Regions from separate parts of the Homo sapiens genome. Here region 2 is linked to region 1. The links come from fine-mapping of genetic effects on gene expression. A gene starts in region 1. The other region holds a variant in brackets. All regions are shown on one strand. Distances are from middle to middle. Region 1 holds the start of IKBKB (inhibitor of nuclear factor kappa B kinase subunit beta). Region 2 overlaps IKBKB (inhibitor of nuclear factor kappa B kinase subunit beta).

What was found. PIP is the estimated chance that this variant, and not a neighbour inherited with it, causes the effect.
Region 2: its variant is fine-mapped to the expression of IKBKB in whole blood (TOPMed, PIP above 0.99).

The regions. Positions count from the first base shown.
Region 1 is chr8:42,267,330-42,275,660 of GRCh38, forward strand. It overlaps IKBKB (inhibitor of nuclear factor kappa B kinase subunit beta), which reads left to right and starts at 3,973. Exons shown (of 22, transcript NM_001556.3): 1 at 3,973-4,140; 2 at 4,754-4,876. The coding sequence starts at 4,772. IKBKB-DT (IKBKB divergent transcript) reads right to left here and starts at 3,921. Exons shown (of 4, transcript NR_185843.2): 1 at 3,322-3,921. RefSeq lists an enhancer at 2,968-3,467 and a silencer at 3,964-4,253.
Region 2 is chr8:42,326,969-42,335,299 of GRCh38, forward strand. It overlaps IKBKB (inhibitor of nuclear factor kappa B kinase subunit beta), which reads left to right. Exons shown (of 22, transcript NM_001556.3): 21 at 2,156-2,246; 22 at 3,946-5,492. The coding sequence ends at 4,011. Among named protein-coding and RNA genes, the nearest start is that of POLB, 7.4 kb to the right of the region's middle. RefSeq lists an enhancer at 3,670-4,170. The variant T/C (reference allele first, on the strand shown) is at 5,231.

The sequences.
Region 1 (8,331 bases):
CTGACTCGCCCTGAATTCTTTCTTGCGCGAGATCCAAGAACCCTCTCTTGGGGTCTGGATCGGGACCCCTTTCCTATAACGGTACTGTACTGTGGTACTAATTACTGCAGAACAAATCCGTGTGTGATTTTATATTGCCTGGCCTTTGTCTGTCCTTACTTCATGGCTCCCTGTGGGTCTTAAAAACCCAGTAAGATTCTAAGTGCCTCTGATGAGATCTCATTCCATTGCTTGGATCCCCTGGGTCAGTAATGCCCTGGGCTGAGCTAGGCACTCTGGCTGGTCAGTATTTCTTGATTTCCCTATAGCACAGCTAAAAAGCACACTCAGCCTCAAAGCAGGAAGAAAAGGGGACATTTTTCTGCTGAATCTGAAAATATCTTTTGTAAACAGTCTGCTCATATCTCCAGAGCAGGACAGAAACCAGATGCAGGCAGAGATAGCTAAACATGTCTTATCTGGATAGAAAATTGAGCTTAAGATAATAAATATCTTGGAATATGATAAAACCCAGAGGCCCCTTCCTGGTCCATGATTAATTGAAGAAAAAAAAAGCCTAGTAATACGTGACCTTATCAGAGAGATTTATGTTCAGTTGAAAGCCAAGTTATTTTGAGCTGAGCAAAATGAGGATTCAAATTACAGGAGCGCAGAGTAAACTTTTGGCATATTAGCGGACATCTTGGTAAGTTTCTCAGGACAGTGTTTTTCAGAGATGACAGGATTAAAGAGAAACCTTTTATGACATTGTACTGGAAATGGACTCTCCACAGTGCCCAGCACATATAGGTGCTCAATAATTTTTTTTTTTTTTTTTTTTTTTAGATGGAGTTTTGCTCTTGTCGCCCAGGCTGGAGTGCAATGGCACGATCTCGGCTCACTGCAACCTCTGCCTCCTGGGTTCAAGCGATTCTCCTGCCTCAGCCTCCCGAGTAGCTTGGATTACAGGCACGTGCCACCACGCCCAGCTAATTTTTTTGTATTTTTAGTAGAGATGGCGTTTCACCATATTGGCCAGGATGGTCTTGATCTCCTGACCTCGTGATCTGCCCGCCTTGGCCTCCCAAAGTGCTGGCATTACAGGTGTAAGCCACTGTGCCTGGCCTAATTTTTGTATTTTTAGTAGAGACGGGGTTTCACTATGTTGGCCAGGCTAGTCTTGAACTCCTGACCTCAAGTGATCTGCCTGCCTCGGCCTTCCAAAGTGCTGAGATTACAGGGGTGAGCCACCACACCCGGCCAAATTTTTTTTTTTGAGATGGAGTCTCGCTCTGTCGCCCACGTTGTAGTGCACTGGTGCGATCTCCACTCACTGCAACCTCCAGCTCCTGGGTTCAAGTGATTCTCCTGCCTCAGCCTCCCAAGTAGCTGGGATTATAGGCACCTGCCACCACGCCCAGCTAATTTTTGTATTTTTCGTAGAGACGTGGTTTCACCATGTTGGCCAGGCTGGTCTCAAATTCCTGACCTCAAGTGATCTGCCTACCTTGGCCTCCCAAAGTGCTGGGATTACAGGCATGAGCCACCTCACCTGGCCAATAAATATTTTATTTAAAAAATTTACTTATTAAGCAAACACTTATATTGCACTTAGACAATGCAGTCACTATTCTACGTGTGTTACAACTATTTACTCATGTTCCTGTTGCTTCTGGCCTTGAGGCTGAGCTTGCCATTTAGCTGGGAGTAATCAAGAAATACCAGGCCAGAAGCGGTGGCTCACACCTGTAATCCCAGCACTTAGGGAGGCCAAGGCGGGAGGATTGCTTTGAGGCCAGGAGTTCAAGCCAAGTCTGAGCAACATAGTGAGACCCCCATGTCAACAAAATAAAATTTAAAAATTAGCTGGTCATGGTGGCACGTGCCTGTAATCTCAGCTAGTGGGGAGGCTGAGGCGGGAGGACCCCTTGAACCCAGGAGGTCAAGACTGCAGTGAGCCGTGATCCTGCCACTATACTCCAAAGTGGGCGATAGAGAAAGGCCCTGTCAAGAAAGAAAAAAGAAAGAAAAGGAAAGAAAAGGAAAGGAAAGGAAGAAAGGAAAGGAAAGGAAGAAAGAAAGGAAAGAAAAAAAAGAAAGCTAGCAGCTGGGAAGGGAAGGGGAGGGGAAGCGAGGGGAGGGGAGGGGAGGGGAGGGGAGGGGAGGAAAAGGAAAGGAAAGAAGGAAAGAAGGAAGGAAGGAGGAGAGATAGGAAGGAAGGAAAAGAAGGAAAAGAAAGAAACCAAGTAGCCGGGAAGGGAAGGGAAGGGGAGGGGAGTGGAGGGGAGGGGAGGAGAGGGGAGGGGGAAGGAAGGAAGGAAAAGAGAGAGAGAGAGAAAGAAAAAGAGAAAGGAGAGGGAAGAGGGGAGAGGGGAGAAACCGAGCAGCCAGCGTGCCTAGCACAGCCCTGGACACCATTGACCCCTATGTTTGGGTTGAGATCTGTCCCTGAGTTAACTTCAACCCCAGGGCTGTCAGGCACTGCTGCTATCAATACCTCATTTGTCCCTCACAACAACTCTGGGGTGGCCTCCTTTCTATGACTTTCTATGAGCCCGCCTGTCCCCCTGCTATTACAATGAAGCAGATGAAACTGCTGATCTTTGTTACTGATGTTTTGGCTGTTTTCAATTTCCAAAAAATGACAATTAAATGCAATTCAACCTAATATTGCCTAAATTTTAAAAGAGGAAATAGGTTCTCACAGTGTTTAAGTAACCAGCCCCCGTGCCTCAGAGGTAGTCAACAGCAGTATCTGGATTCAAAATCCAGTTTGCCTCCTTCTGAACTTCTTAACATGCTACTTTTAGCCACGGATTAAGAACCCGGGAACCAGTTGCTAGGGTTTGAGTATCAGCTCATCTACGTAGCAGCCATGTACCTTGGAAATAATAATAATGCAGACCAGGTGCAGTGGCTCACAGCCTGTAATCTCAACACTTTGGGAAGCCCAGGCGGGTGGATCCCTTGAGCCCAGGAGTTGGAGACCAGCCTGGGCAACACAGTGAGTGAGACCCCGCCACCAGGTATGGCGGCCGCGCACCTGTAGTCAGGAGAATCACTTGAGCCCAGGAGTTGGAGGTTGCACTGAGCTGTGATCACACCACTGCACTCCAGCCTGGGTGACAGAGCGAGATAATAATAATAATGATGATGATGATGCAGTATTTTCCAATTTACAGGGTTGCCCTGAGGATTGAATAAGGAAATCTAAGTACAGAGATTTAGAACAGAGCCCTGCACTGTGTAAGCACTCTATAGATGTGAGCTATTATTATCATCTTCAGGTTCCTTTGGTAGTTTTTTTCTGCTTGAATAAAATATAGCAACACACACACACACCTCCTTTGTCCACTAATGTAATCCCATAAAACGGAGAAACTCAGCAGTGAGGACATTCTGATTCCAAGCAGGAAGGAGATGAACGATGAACCTCAGGCTGAGCGCCTCACGGTTTCCTCATGTCACCGGGGCTGGGGGTGCAGTTTGGCTTCACACTGCTAGGTCTTTTCTTGTTTTTAAGGGGGCAGGGGCTGTCACCTCTGAGGAGTCAGCTGTGATTGATCCTTCTCCACACCCAGCCAAGCACCCCCCAGACAGGGGAGCGCCCGCAGTAGGGCGGTAGGCAAGGGCAGTTCTAGCCAACAGTCCCTAAATCATCCCAGCGGGGGCGCGGGAAATTCCACCGAGGTGAAAGCCTAGGGGGCCGGGTGAAGAAATCCCCATACCCGGGCCCAGAAACCGCTCCAGGTGGAAGTAACTTGTCTAAAGAGAACAGGGTGTAACGGGGGTCATTTCAGGGCTGTTCTTTTAAATCGGTGAGCACGGTCTGTCTACTTTCCCTCAGTTGTCTAGAGACCACACGCCACCCCCGCCCCGGGGGAGTCGCCCGGTCGAGGGTCCCGGGACAGGCGCAGCACTCGCAGCATCCGGACCTGGTCTGCCTCGCGCCGGGAGCGGCCTCTTTAAGAGCGGCCGCGGCCAACGTGCTCCGTGACGTCAGAGCAGGAAGTGTTTGAGGAAGTCGCGCCGCGCTGCCCGCGTTAAGATTCCCGCATTTTAATGTTTTCAGGGGGGTGTCATAGCCCCGGGTTTGGCCGCCCCAGCCCCGCCTTCCCCGCCCCGGGGAGCCCGCCCCCTGCCCCGCGTCCCTGCCGACAGGTGAGTCCCCCTCGTGGGTGCGGCCCGGGTGCCACCTGCAGGCCCCGCCGCCCCGCTGCCTGCAAGGCCCGGAAGACCCCTCTGTGCCGCTGGGAAGTCGCAGCTTGCGGACTGGGGAGCGTTTCACTTGTGCGGGTTGGAGTTCGGGAAGCCGGGAGAAACAGCTCTCCCTGGGGTGGCTTCTTGGGGGTGGGTGGCTTTGAGGGGAACCTGCGATTTATGGGAACATTGTAAAGAAACACGTGACCTCGGCGATGCTCAGAAGTAGGTTCTGCCCCTGCCACCTCGGGCAGAAGGCGGGCAGGCCCGGGCGCCCCTGGTGGAGTCAGCTGGGGATCCCCTCGCTAGGGCAAGGGCGTGGGCATCGCCTCCCTCGGTGACTTTCTTCCTTGCCTGATGCCACAGCAACCGGATGGGGGAGGGTGAGAGGGACAAAAGTTTGCCACAAAGTTTGGACCAACCAAACACATTGGTTTCTTTACAAAATAAAAAACCAGTTGTATTTTTCTTCTCTCCCATTCAAGAGCAGTGGTATCTCTTGCCTTCTCCATCCCTTTGAGCTCCATTTTTTTCTTAATCCTAACCTTTTTTCCCCATCCCAAATTGCTTATAGAGTTAGCACGACATCAGTATGAGCTGGTCACCTTCCCTGACAACGCAGACATGTGGGGCCTGGGAAATGAAAGAGCGCCTTGGGACAGGGGGATTTGGAAATGTCATCCGATGGCACAATCAGGTAGGCCCTCTGTGCAGCTTGGGGAGGGGCGGGGAGCCAGGCCCCCTCCTCACTGCCTCCACTTTCTCTGATCCTGCTGGGCCAAGGGCTCACCTTTGGCTTTGGTCATCTTGGGACAGTGAATAGGGGGACTGGGAAGAGGGCTTCAGGACTTCTGAGCTGACTCCAGGTTAGTGGTCTCCATGCTTTATTGACTATGTCACCTAAATAAATAGTAAAATAAAGTTAAGCTCTTAGTCTCTATTATATATATATGGTAACAGTAGAATATCATGTACTAATATATACTGATATTATATGTTATAAAACATATAGAAATAGGAAAATTTAAAGGATGAGACTAAATAAATAATTTAAAATATTTTAATTCCTTGAGGCCAGTAGTTCAAGAGCAGCCTGGGCAACATAGCAAGACCTCGTCTCTACAAAAAAGGTTTAAAAATTAGGCAGCCAGCTGGGCGTGGTGGCTTATACCTGTAATCTCAGCACTTTGGGAGGCTGAGGCAGGCGGATCACGCAGTCAGGAGATGGAGACCATCCTGGCTAACACTGTGAAACCCCATCTCTACTAAAAATACAAAGAATTAGCCAGGCTTGGTGGCACGTGCCTGTAGTCCCCAGCTACTTGGGAGGCTGAGGCAGGAGAATCGCTTGAACCCATGAGGCGGAGGTTGCAGTGAGCCAAGATTGCGCTACTGCACTCCAGCCTGGGTAACAGAGTGAGACTCCGTCTCAAAAAAAAAAAAAAAAAAAAAACCTTAGGCAGCCTTGGTGCGTACCTGTAGTCCCACTACATTGGAGGCTGATGTGGGAGGATTGCTTGTCCAGGAGTTTGAGGCTGTAGTGAGCTATGATTGTGCCACTGCACTCTAGCCTAGGTGACAGAGTGAGACCTTGTTTCAAAACCATTTTTTAAAAATTATTTTAAATGTCGGGTGCAGTGGCTTACACCTGTAATCCCAGCACTTTGGGAGGCCGAGGCAGGAGGATCACTTGAGGTCAGGAGTTTGAGACCAGCCTGGCCAACATGGTGAAACCTCATCTCTACTAAAAATACAAAATTAGCTGGTGTGGTGGTGCATGCCTGTAACTTCAGCTACTCAGGAGGCTGAGGCAGGAGAATCGCTTGAACCCAGGAGGCAGAGGTTGCAGTGAGCCGAGATAGTGTCACTGCATTCCAGCCTGGGTGACAGAATGAGACCCTGTCTCAAAAAATATATATATATATATATATTTAAAATATTTGCTAATTATGATGTCTTCCCAGTATTGCTTGCGATACTGCACGGCAAAAAATAAGCAGATCCACATGAAAGTGAGAATTCATTTAGAATGATGATGAAAATCCATATTTCAAATAATTAACATTTTTTTAAATTTTGTAGAGATGGGGTCTTGCTATGTTGCCCAGGCTTGTCTCAAACTCTCATCCTCAAGCAGTCTTCCCGTCTTTGCCTCCCAAAATGTTTGGATTACAGGCCTGAGCCATGGGACCTGGCCTCAGCTGAGGTTTTTTTTTTATTTTTTGTAGTGATGGTGGTCTCACAATGTTGTCCAGGCTCGTCTAGAACTCTTGGCCTCAAGTGATCTTCCTGCCTTGGCCTCTCAAAGTGCTGGGATTACAGCCATGAGTCATTGAACCTGGCCTGTTTTTATTTTTAATTGACACATAATAATTGTACATATTTATGGGGTACAGTGTGATATTTTGATACATAATGTGTAATGATCAAATCGGGGTAATTGGCGTGTTCATCACTTGAAACACGTATCCTTTTTGTTGGAAACAGTCAAAATTCTTTCTTCTGGCTATTTTGAAATATACAATATTTTTTTTTTTCCGGAGACAGAGTCTCGCACTGTTGCCCAGGCTGGAGTGCAGTGGTGTGATCTTGGCTCACTGCAACCTCCGCCTCTTGAGTTCAAGTGATTCTCCTGCCTCAGCCTCCTGAGTACCTGGAATTACAGGTGTGCACCACCATGCCAGCTAATTTTTGTATTTTTAGTAGAAATGGGGTTTCACCATGTAGGCCATGCCGGTCTCAAACTCCTGACCTCAGGTGATCTGCCCACCTCAGCCACCCAAAGTGCTTGGATTACAAGCGTGAGCCACTACGTCCGGCCTGAAATATACAATAAAGTTTTATTCACTGTAGTCACCCTGTTGTTCTTTAGAATACTGTAACTTATTCCACCTAACCGTAATTTTGTACCCATTAACCAGTCTCTCCCTATTTCCCTCCACAACTCCCCCCACCCCCACCACCCTTTCCTGCCTCTGGTGACCACTATTCTACTTTCTACTTCTGCGAGATTAGTTTGTTGTTGTTGTTGTTGTTGTTTTGAGACGGAGTTTTGCTCTTGTCGCCCAGGCTGGAGTGCAGTGGCGCGATCTTGGCTCACTGCAACCTCTGCCTCCCAGGTTCAAGTGATTCTCCTGCCCCAGCCTCCCGAGTTGCTGAGATTACAGGTGCCTGCCACCACACCTGGCTAATTTTTGTATTTTTAATAGAGACGGGGTTTCACCATGTTGGCCAGGCTGGTCTCGAACTCCTGAACTTAGGTGATCCCCGCCGGCGCGCCCCCCCCCCCCCCCGCCATCCCAGCCTCCCAAAGTGCTGGGATTACAGGTGGGAACTACCGAGCCTGGACGAGATCAGTTTTTTTTTGTTTGTTTGTTTTGTTTTTTGAGATGGATTCTTGCTCTGTTGCCCAAGCTGGAGTGCAGTGGCACAATCTTGGCTCGCTGCAACTGGTGTCTCCCAGGTTCAAGCGATTCTCCAGCCTCAGCCTCCCAAGTAGCTGGGATTATAGCCGTGCACCACCACGCCTGGCTAATTTTTGTATTTTTAGTAGAGACAGGGTTTTACCATGTTGGCCAGTCTGGTCTCAAACTCCTGACTTCAGGCGATCTGCCTGCCTCGGCCTCCCAAAGTACTGGGATTACAGGCATGAGCCACTGTGCCTGGCATTTTTTTTTTTTTAATTTTTAATTTCTTTGGAGATAGGGTCTCAATCTGTCATCCAGGCTGAGTGCAGTGGTGCCATCATGGCTCACTGTAGCCTTGACCTCCTGGGCTCAAATGATCCTTCTGCCTCGGCCTCCTGAGTAGCTGGGACTACAGGTGTGCGTTGCCATGCCCGGCTAATTTTTGATTTTTTGTAGATAGGAGGTCTGTCTGTTGCCCAGGCTGGTCTCGAATTCCTGGACACAAGTGATCCTCCCACCTCAGCCTCTCAAAGTGCTGGGATTACAGGTGTCAGCCAACAGACTTTACCCAACTGAGATCAGTTTTTTATTAGCTCCCACGGATGAGTGAGAACATGTGGTATTTATCTCCCTGGGCCTGGCTTAATTCCCTTAATGTAATGCCCTCCAAGCTCATCCATGTTGCCACAGATGGCAGGATTTCATTCTTTTTTATGGCTGAATAAGAGTACATTGTGTCTGTGTA
Region 2 (8,331 bases), 60 kb after region 1:
GTTGGGAGTGACTGATAATTCAAGGTTTCTTCTGAGGATGACGAAAACATTCTGAAACTAGATATGGTGATGGTTGCACAGCTCTGTAAATACGCGAAAACCCTTGAATTGTACACTTTAAATGGGTGAGCTTTATGGTATATAAATTATATCTCAATACAGTCTGCTTTGAAGAATCTTGTTCTTGTCCTTGGGAGTTTGTAGCCTCTTTTGGTGTTTATGTGACCTTGGATACTTAATTTTCTCTTGGCTGTATGGCACGCGCTTGTAATCCTAGCACTTTGGGAGGCCAAGGCAGGAGGTTCGCAGGAGTTCGAGGCAAGTCTCCTGGGCAACATGGTGAGACTGTCTCTCTCTCTCTCTTTTTTTTTTTTTTTTTTTTTGAGACAGACTCTTGCTCTGTTGCCCAGGCTGGAGTGCAGTGGCGCGATCTTGGCTCACTGCAACCTCCACCTCTCAGGTTCAAGTGATTCTTCTGCCTCAGCCTCCCGAGTAGCTGGGACTACAGGTGCATGCCACCACAACCGGCTGATTTTTTGTAGTTTTAGTAGAGATGGGGTTTCACCGTATTAGCCAGGATGGTCTCAATCTCCTGACCTTGTGATCCACCTGCCTCAGCCTCCCAAAGTGCTGGGATTACAGGCATGAGCCACTGCACCCAGCCTTTTTTTTTTTTTTTTTGAAATGGAGTTTCGCTCTTGTTGCCTAGGCTGGAGTGCTATGGCACGATCTCAGCTCACCTCAAACTCAGCCTCCTGGGTTCAAGCGATTCTCCTGCCTCAGCCTTCCGAGTAGCTGGGATTACAGGCATGAGCCACCAGGCCTGGCTAATTTTGTATTTTTTTTTTTTTTTGAGACGGAGTCTCGCTCTGTTGCCCAGGCCGGACTGCGGACTGCAGTGGCGCAATCTCGGCTCACTGCAAGCTCCGCTTCCCGGGTTCACGCCATTCTCCTGCCTCAGCCTCCCGAGTAGCTGGGACTACAGGCGCCCGCCACCGCGCCCGGCTAATTTTTTGTATTTTTAGTAGAGACGGGGTTTCACCTTGTTAGCCAGGATGGTCTCGATCTCCTGACCTCATGATCCACCCGCCTCGGCCTCCCAAAGTGCTGGGATTACAGGCGTGAGCCACCGCGCCCGGCCAATTTTGTATTTTTATTAGAGACAGGGTTTCTCCAGCCTGTTGGTCAGGCTGATCTCGAACTCCCGACCTTGGGTGATCCGCCCGCCTTGGTCTCCCAAAGTGCTGGGATTACAGGCGTGAGCCACCGCACCCGGCCCTTTTTTTTTTTTTTTTTTTTTAAATAAAAATTATTTCCCCAACCTCTCATGAGCTCCTGGAGTATAGTAGCTAGACCGGGAGCCTGTTCCATTCCCTTCTGGGGCAGGCACTGAGCCTTTAGGCTAGCTAGAGGCCCCATAGATGAGGCTTGGCAGAAATGTGCTCTGAGCTCCTGCCATCAGATTGTCACATTTTGCAGAGTGAGAGGAGTTCCAGGGCAGTCTTCCTTTATGTGGCTTATTCCCTTCAGTGATGTCCTCAAAGGTCTAGAAAGGTGGACCTGGGTATATAGGATGTCTCTCGTCTCCCCACAGCATAGAGCTGAGGTTAGAAAAAGACGGATGTTTTACTACATGCTGCTCTTTTTCACTGTGGCCCAGTCCTCAGAGGAAACATGGGTTTCTTATTATAGAAAAGAGAGAGATCAGATTAGATGAAACCAAATCCCAGAACTTGATTTTCAACAGATTCCAAGGAACTGTGAATCCTGATAAATTCCTTGGCCTTTTTTTTGTCTACTTCAAAAATTGGAAAACAGGTGATTTGGAGAATATCTTTAGATTTTGGCAGTTTGAAAATTAAATTCAGCTATCTAGTAAGTCAGAAAGCAGAAAGAGGTTTTTTTGCTTCTGACTTTTATTGAGATCTGTTTGCTTTTTTGCATTTTGGACAGTAACGCTCATATGTGGAAAGTGCATAACAAGATGAATGAAAGTATTAGTCAGTGGGTTGGTGTTTTAAGACACTCAGGATCAAAATAATTGTTACTTCATTTAAAAAGTATTATCAAAACTCTCTAGCATATTTTAAAATAGCAGTGTTAGCTCTGATAACTAATAATGACCACTTTCTAATAATTTGATCATTTTCTTTAGTGAAGAACTGGTGGCTGAAGCACATAACCTCTGCACCCTGCTAGAAAATGCCATACAGGACACTGTGAGGGAACAAGACCAGAGTTTCACGGTAACAGCTTGTGTGAGACTCCTGCGATTCCATGTCCTTTCTTTCTATGGCAAAATAGAAGAGAAAATGGAAATGCAATCTGGCATTATCCTCAACCTCAGTGTTTGTTTGTTTGCTTGTTTATTTGTGACAGGGTCTCTCTCTCTCACCCAGGCTGGAGTGCAGTGGCATGATCTTGGCTCACTGCAACCTCCGCTTCCCGGGTTCAAGTGATTCTCATGCCTCAGCCTCCTGAGTAGCTGGGACTACAGGCGTGCGTCACCACATTCAGCTGATTTTTTCAGTGTATATTTATAATTTTCTAGTACACATTTTTTATTATTCATAATAATAGTGATGTCTAACAATTATTGAAGGCTTACAACTACATGTATGCATTATCTTATTTAATCCTTGGAACACTTAATTCCGATGATGAGGAAGAAGGTAGCATTGTTCCCAGAAGCCTGTCCCCACCTGCACCATTGGTACTACTGCTGAGTATTTGTGTGTTGAGTGCTGGGCTGGGAGCAGGAACCAGCCATGGCCTTGTCCTCAGGGCCTTGGAGCTTAGTGGTAGGTAGTACTAGTTATGAGAAAACTAGCCAAGTTACAGGTACATTAAGACAAAGCTTCCATTGTTGAGAGAATCCTGCATCATTTGCTTAGATCTTTACATGGCCTTTACCTGCTAATCACTTGCTAACCTCCCCTAACTTTAAGCTTTTGGAAGAATTACAAGGGATACCACTGTGAATTGCAGCCTTTGCTGATGTAGTCGCATGTCCTCCTCCAGTCTGTGGACATTCTATATCTCTTGCTGCTCTCCTCCTCCTGGCATGATAATGTTTTGATCAGTTCATTGCTTACTTGCATGTCTGTGGGAGGAAGAGGAAGTCTCATCAGGCCAAGTCATGTGGTGAGGCTGGAAATCCATAACTGAGATTAGCTACCCACAGTGAGCATGGGAGTGAGTGCTGTGAGCCACAGTGGTACTGACGTCGACTTTCTAATTCCCACAGTCACAGAATCTCAAGGACTCTGAGCCAATTCAAAGAAAAGATCCTGTACAGTTTGAATATGTAACTTAGCTTAAGAGTACCCTGCAGTCACAAGATTTATTAATAAAAGGGTTTGGCTTTTTAATTTGTATTTGTTTAATTTATTTGTTTTATGCAGCCTGGGTCTTGCTATGTTGCCCAGGCTGGTCTTGAACTCCTGGCCTCAAGCGATCCGCTCGCCTCTGCCTCCCAAAGTGCTGGAACTATAGGCATGAGCCACCATACCCAGCCAATAAAGGGGTTTCAATATATTTCTTTTTATTTTTTATTTTTTGAGATGGAGTCTTGCTCTTTTGCCCAGGGTGGAGTGCAATGGCACGATCTCAGCTCACTGCAACCCCTACCTCCCAGGTTCAAGTGATTCTCCTGCCTCAGCCTCCTGAGTAGCTGGGACTATAGGAGCTTGCCACCACGCCTGGCTAATTTTGTATTTTTAGTAGAAATGGGGTTTCACCATTTTGGCCAGGCTGGTCTCGAACTCCTGACCTCATGATCTGCCCACCTTGGCCTCCCAAAGTGTTGGGATTATAGGCATGAGCCACTGTGCCTGGCTGGGTTTTAGTATATTTCTCAATTGTCCTGATTTCCTCCTGAAGAGGAAAAATAACCTGAAATGTGTTGGTGGCTGTTGTTTTTTTAACATGTCTGTTGACTTTCAGGCCCTAGACTGGAGCTGGTTACAGACGGAAGAAGAAGAGCACAGCTGCCTGGAGCAGGCCTCATGATGTGGGGGGACTCGACCCCCTGACATGGGGCAGCCCATAGCAGGCCTTGTGCAGTGGGGGGACTCGACCCCCTGACATGGGGCTGCCTGGAGCAGGCCGCGTGACGTGGGGCTGCCTGGCCGCGGCTCTCACATGGTGGTTCCTGCTGCACTGATGGCCCAGGGGTCTCTGGTATCCAGATGGAGCTCTCGCTTCCTCAGCAGCTGTGACTTTCACCCAGGACCCAGGACGCAGCCCTCCGTGGGCACTGCCGGCGCCTTGTCTGCACACTGGAGGTCCTCCATTACAGAGGCCCAGCGCACATCGCTGGCCCCACAAACGTTCAGGGGTACAGCCATGGCAGCTCCTTCCTCTGCCGTGAGAAAAGTGCTTGGAGTACGGTTTGCCACACACGTGACTGGACAGTGTCCAATTCAAATCTTTCAGGGCAGAGTCCGAGCAGCGCTTGGTGACAGCCTGTCCTCTCCTGCTCTCCAAAGGCCCTGCTCCCTGTCCTCTCTCACTTTACAGCTTGTGTTTCTTCTGGATTCAGCTTCTCCTAAACAGACAGTTTAATTATAGTTGCGGCCTGGCCCCATCCTCACTTCCTCTTTTTATTTCACTGCTGCTAAAATTGTGTTTTTACCTACTACTTTGGTGGTTGTCCTCTTTTCGGCAAAGTTGGAGCGAGTGCCAAGCTCTCCATCTGTGGTCCTTTCTGCCAAGAGCGACTCATAGTAACCAGGATGGGAGAGCAGCTGCCTTATTCTGAATCCCAAAAATTACTTGGGGGTGATTGTCACAGAGGAGGGACAGAAAGGGTATCTGCTGACCACCAGCCTGCCTACCCATGCCCATGTCTCCATTCCTGCTCAAGCGTGTGTGCTGGGCCGGGGAGTCCCTGTCTCTCACAGCATCTAGCAGTATTATTAAATGGATTCATTTTAAAAATAGCTCCTATATTTTGTAACATGTCTCAAACACTCATACTGGGTTCCACAATCCACTGTTAGAATACCTATGGTTAGGGCTTCTGAACTAAAATAATGGAAAATTTTAACAATTTGTATAGTGCCTGGATCATTACTAGTGCCATAACCCTGCTTCTTCAACATTTCACAGAACTTCTCTTTTATATAAAGGCAAGAGCACAAAATGAGTTCAGATGATCACAAACAGGTGAGTTTTGTTGGAGAAGAAAGTTGGAGTAGGAGACTTTCACAAGTGGTTTCCATGGAGA[T/C]AGAATGAAGCATTCTGTGGTCAAGTAAGTTTAGGGAGCTATTCATGTTTCACTTGCTTTGTGGAGATTCACACTATGCACTGGGAAAGTATCTGAAAAGTCTTATAATAAAGAAACAGGCTTAACTTTGTGTAAGAACACTGTTTATCAATGTCATTTGGCTATAGAAACATTTTCTCCTGCTGATTGTGTGTGTGAAACATGTATTAACATTCCAATGAACTAGCATTTAATAAAGCACAATTTTGGAAACCCTGGTAAATGACAGTGGGAAATAACACCCGAAAGGCAAGGACGGGCAGATTGGGGAGGGAAAGGATGTTGGGCTAAGGGCTGTGAGCTTATGTTACAGGCAACTGAGCCACTGAAGAATTTTGACGAAGAAAATGCCAACCAAAGCAGTCATTTTAAAAGTTTATGGCTGTTCAGTTACAGGACAAGTTGTGAAAAGAAAGAAAAAAAATGGAAAAAAAAAAAGTTTATGGCTGAAACAGTGTAATTGATTAAAAAGTGAAAATCCAGGCCGGGCGCGGTGGCTCACGCCTGTAATTCCAACACTTTGGGAGGCTGAGGCAGGCAGATCACCTGAGGTCGGGAGTTCGAGACCAGCCTGACCAATATGGAGAAACCCCGTCTCTACTAAAAATACAAAAGCCAGGCGTGGTGGGACATGCCTGTAATCCCAGCTACTCGGGAGGCTGAGGCAGGAGAATCGCTTGAACCTAGGAGGCAGAGGTTGCAGTGAGCAGAGATTGTGCCATTGCACTCCAGCCTGGGCAAAAAGAGCGAAACTTTGTCTCAAAAAAAAAAAAAAAAAGTGAAAATCCAGGAGTTAGTATGTCTGCTTCCAAAAAGATTAGATAGATACATTTTTTCCTCTCAGTAAGTACAGCTAAACTCCTTGGTCACATAAACAAACACAAGACTCTGAAAGGTAGAGATAAGACGGAAGACTATCCCTGGACCTTGGGATCTGAGGAAGGACTCTGGTAGTTATTCCGTGGCTTTTCTTTTTGTCTCAAGGTTGAGTGCTGGCTTCGGAAGGCCAAGGCGGGCGGATCAGGAGGTCAGGAGTTTGAGACCAGCCCGACCAACATGGTGAAACCCCGCCTCTACTAAAAATACAAAAATTAGCCGGGTGTGGTGGCATGCGGCTGTAATCCCAGCTACTCAGGAGGCTGAGGCAGGAGAATCGCTTGAACCCGGGAGGCGGAGGTTGCAGTGAGCCAAGATCATGCCACTGCATGGGTGACAGAGCAAGACTCTGTCTCAAAAAAAAAAAAAAAAAAAGATATGAGTGCTGGAGAAGCCAACCAATGGGCACAGACAAGAAAGCCTGCTCTCTCTACCTGCGTTAGTTTCCTAGACCTGCCCTAGCTAGTTACCACAACTTTGGTGGCTTAAATGACAGAAACTTATTCTCTCCCAGTTCCGGAGGCCAGAAGTCTGAAATAAAGGTGTGAACAGGATCACACCTCTTCTGAAGGCTCTAGGGAGGTTCTATCCCTGGTGGCGTCCAGCTTCTGTTGGCTTTAGGCAATCCTTGGCTTGTGACTGCATCTCTGCCCCTGGGTCATATTGCTGCCGCTTTCTCTGTCACATCTCTGCTGTGTATCTCTTACAAGAATACTTGCCATTGGATTTAGAGCCAATTTGAAAAATCCAGGGTAAGCACTTTGTCTCAAGATGTTTCATGTAATCACAGTTTGCCATATGAGGTAATGTTCACAGGCTCTGGAGATTATGATGTGGACATCTTCTTGGGGGCCACCATTCAGCCCACTACAGTCCACCCTCTGGCACCCCAAAATCCATATTTGTCCTACATGAAAAAGACATTTATTCCTCCCAACATCTCCCAAAGTCTCAACTCATACAGCATGAACTAAGACCAAATTTGCATCTATATATTAGCTCAGAAGTCCTGCATCTCATCATCTAAGTCAGATGTGGGTGAGACCCCGTGCATGATTCATTTTAGGATTAAATTTCTCTGGCTGTGGACCTGTGATACTACAGGTTATCAGCTTCCAAATAACTTTGGAATTTGGATAAATAAATTTATTTAAAATGATGTAATAGGCATATGATAGATGTTCTCATTCTGAAAGGGAAAATTGGAAGGGATAAAGAAGTCACCATTCCCAACCAATTTTGATCTAGCAGAGAAAATTCCATTAGGATTCAAGGCCTGCAAATAATTCCCTAGCTTGAAGTGCCGCCCACTGGGCCCACAACAGTTGTGCAGACCTTTGTGTCTGCTCACAGCAGAACCATGGGCCTCTCTGTACCCATGGTGGCTCCATAGGCCTCTGAGTCTGTGCTCACAGTGACCTCATAGGCCTGTGTCTCTGCATCCATCACTTCTGTCTGCTCCTCTGGCCTCTGCCTCTGTGCCCCTGGCTCTGCCCTTGGAGTCATTCTTGCTTTTTCTTGAAGGATCGCATGTTTGCAGCCCAGTAGCTCTATCAGCCCATTTCTTGCCCGTAGCAGTTTGGATTTCAACAGCCTTTTCTCATTTCACACTGTCTCTGTCACTTCCAGGCTAAGCTGTCTCTGCTGATGTAACATTCTCAAAAATCTTGTGGGTCCCCTGTGTAATGTCATGGAGTTCAATGCCATTAGACAAGAGGGTCCTCCACAAATTTTCTGGGATAATCCCATCTCTATTCCTGACTTCTACTGAGATGGTTGAATGAGTCCAAGAGTCCCATGCTTCATCTCTTCGTGCCACCACACCCAGTACATTTTTCTTATTTTTGTAAAAGAGATGGGGTCTCGCCATGTTGCCCAGTCTGGTCTTGAACTCCTGGGCTCGATCCTCCTGCCTCCACCTCCCAGAGTGCTGGGATTACAGGTGGCCGTGTTTGACACTTCAGCAAAACTGCAATTTAAGTTATTAACTTTATTGAGTACTTACGTGGAAACAAAAATTAAGTCCCTTCTCCCGTGGAGCTGGCATTGCACATTGGTGGGAGGAGGAGTGAGCAGGGAGTGCATAATGTGCAACCACGTGTGAATATTTCCAGTCCTTCTTAGTACTGTGAAGGAAACACACAAGTAAAAACCTGGGCCTGGTCCAGGAACGTGACAAGGGTGTG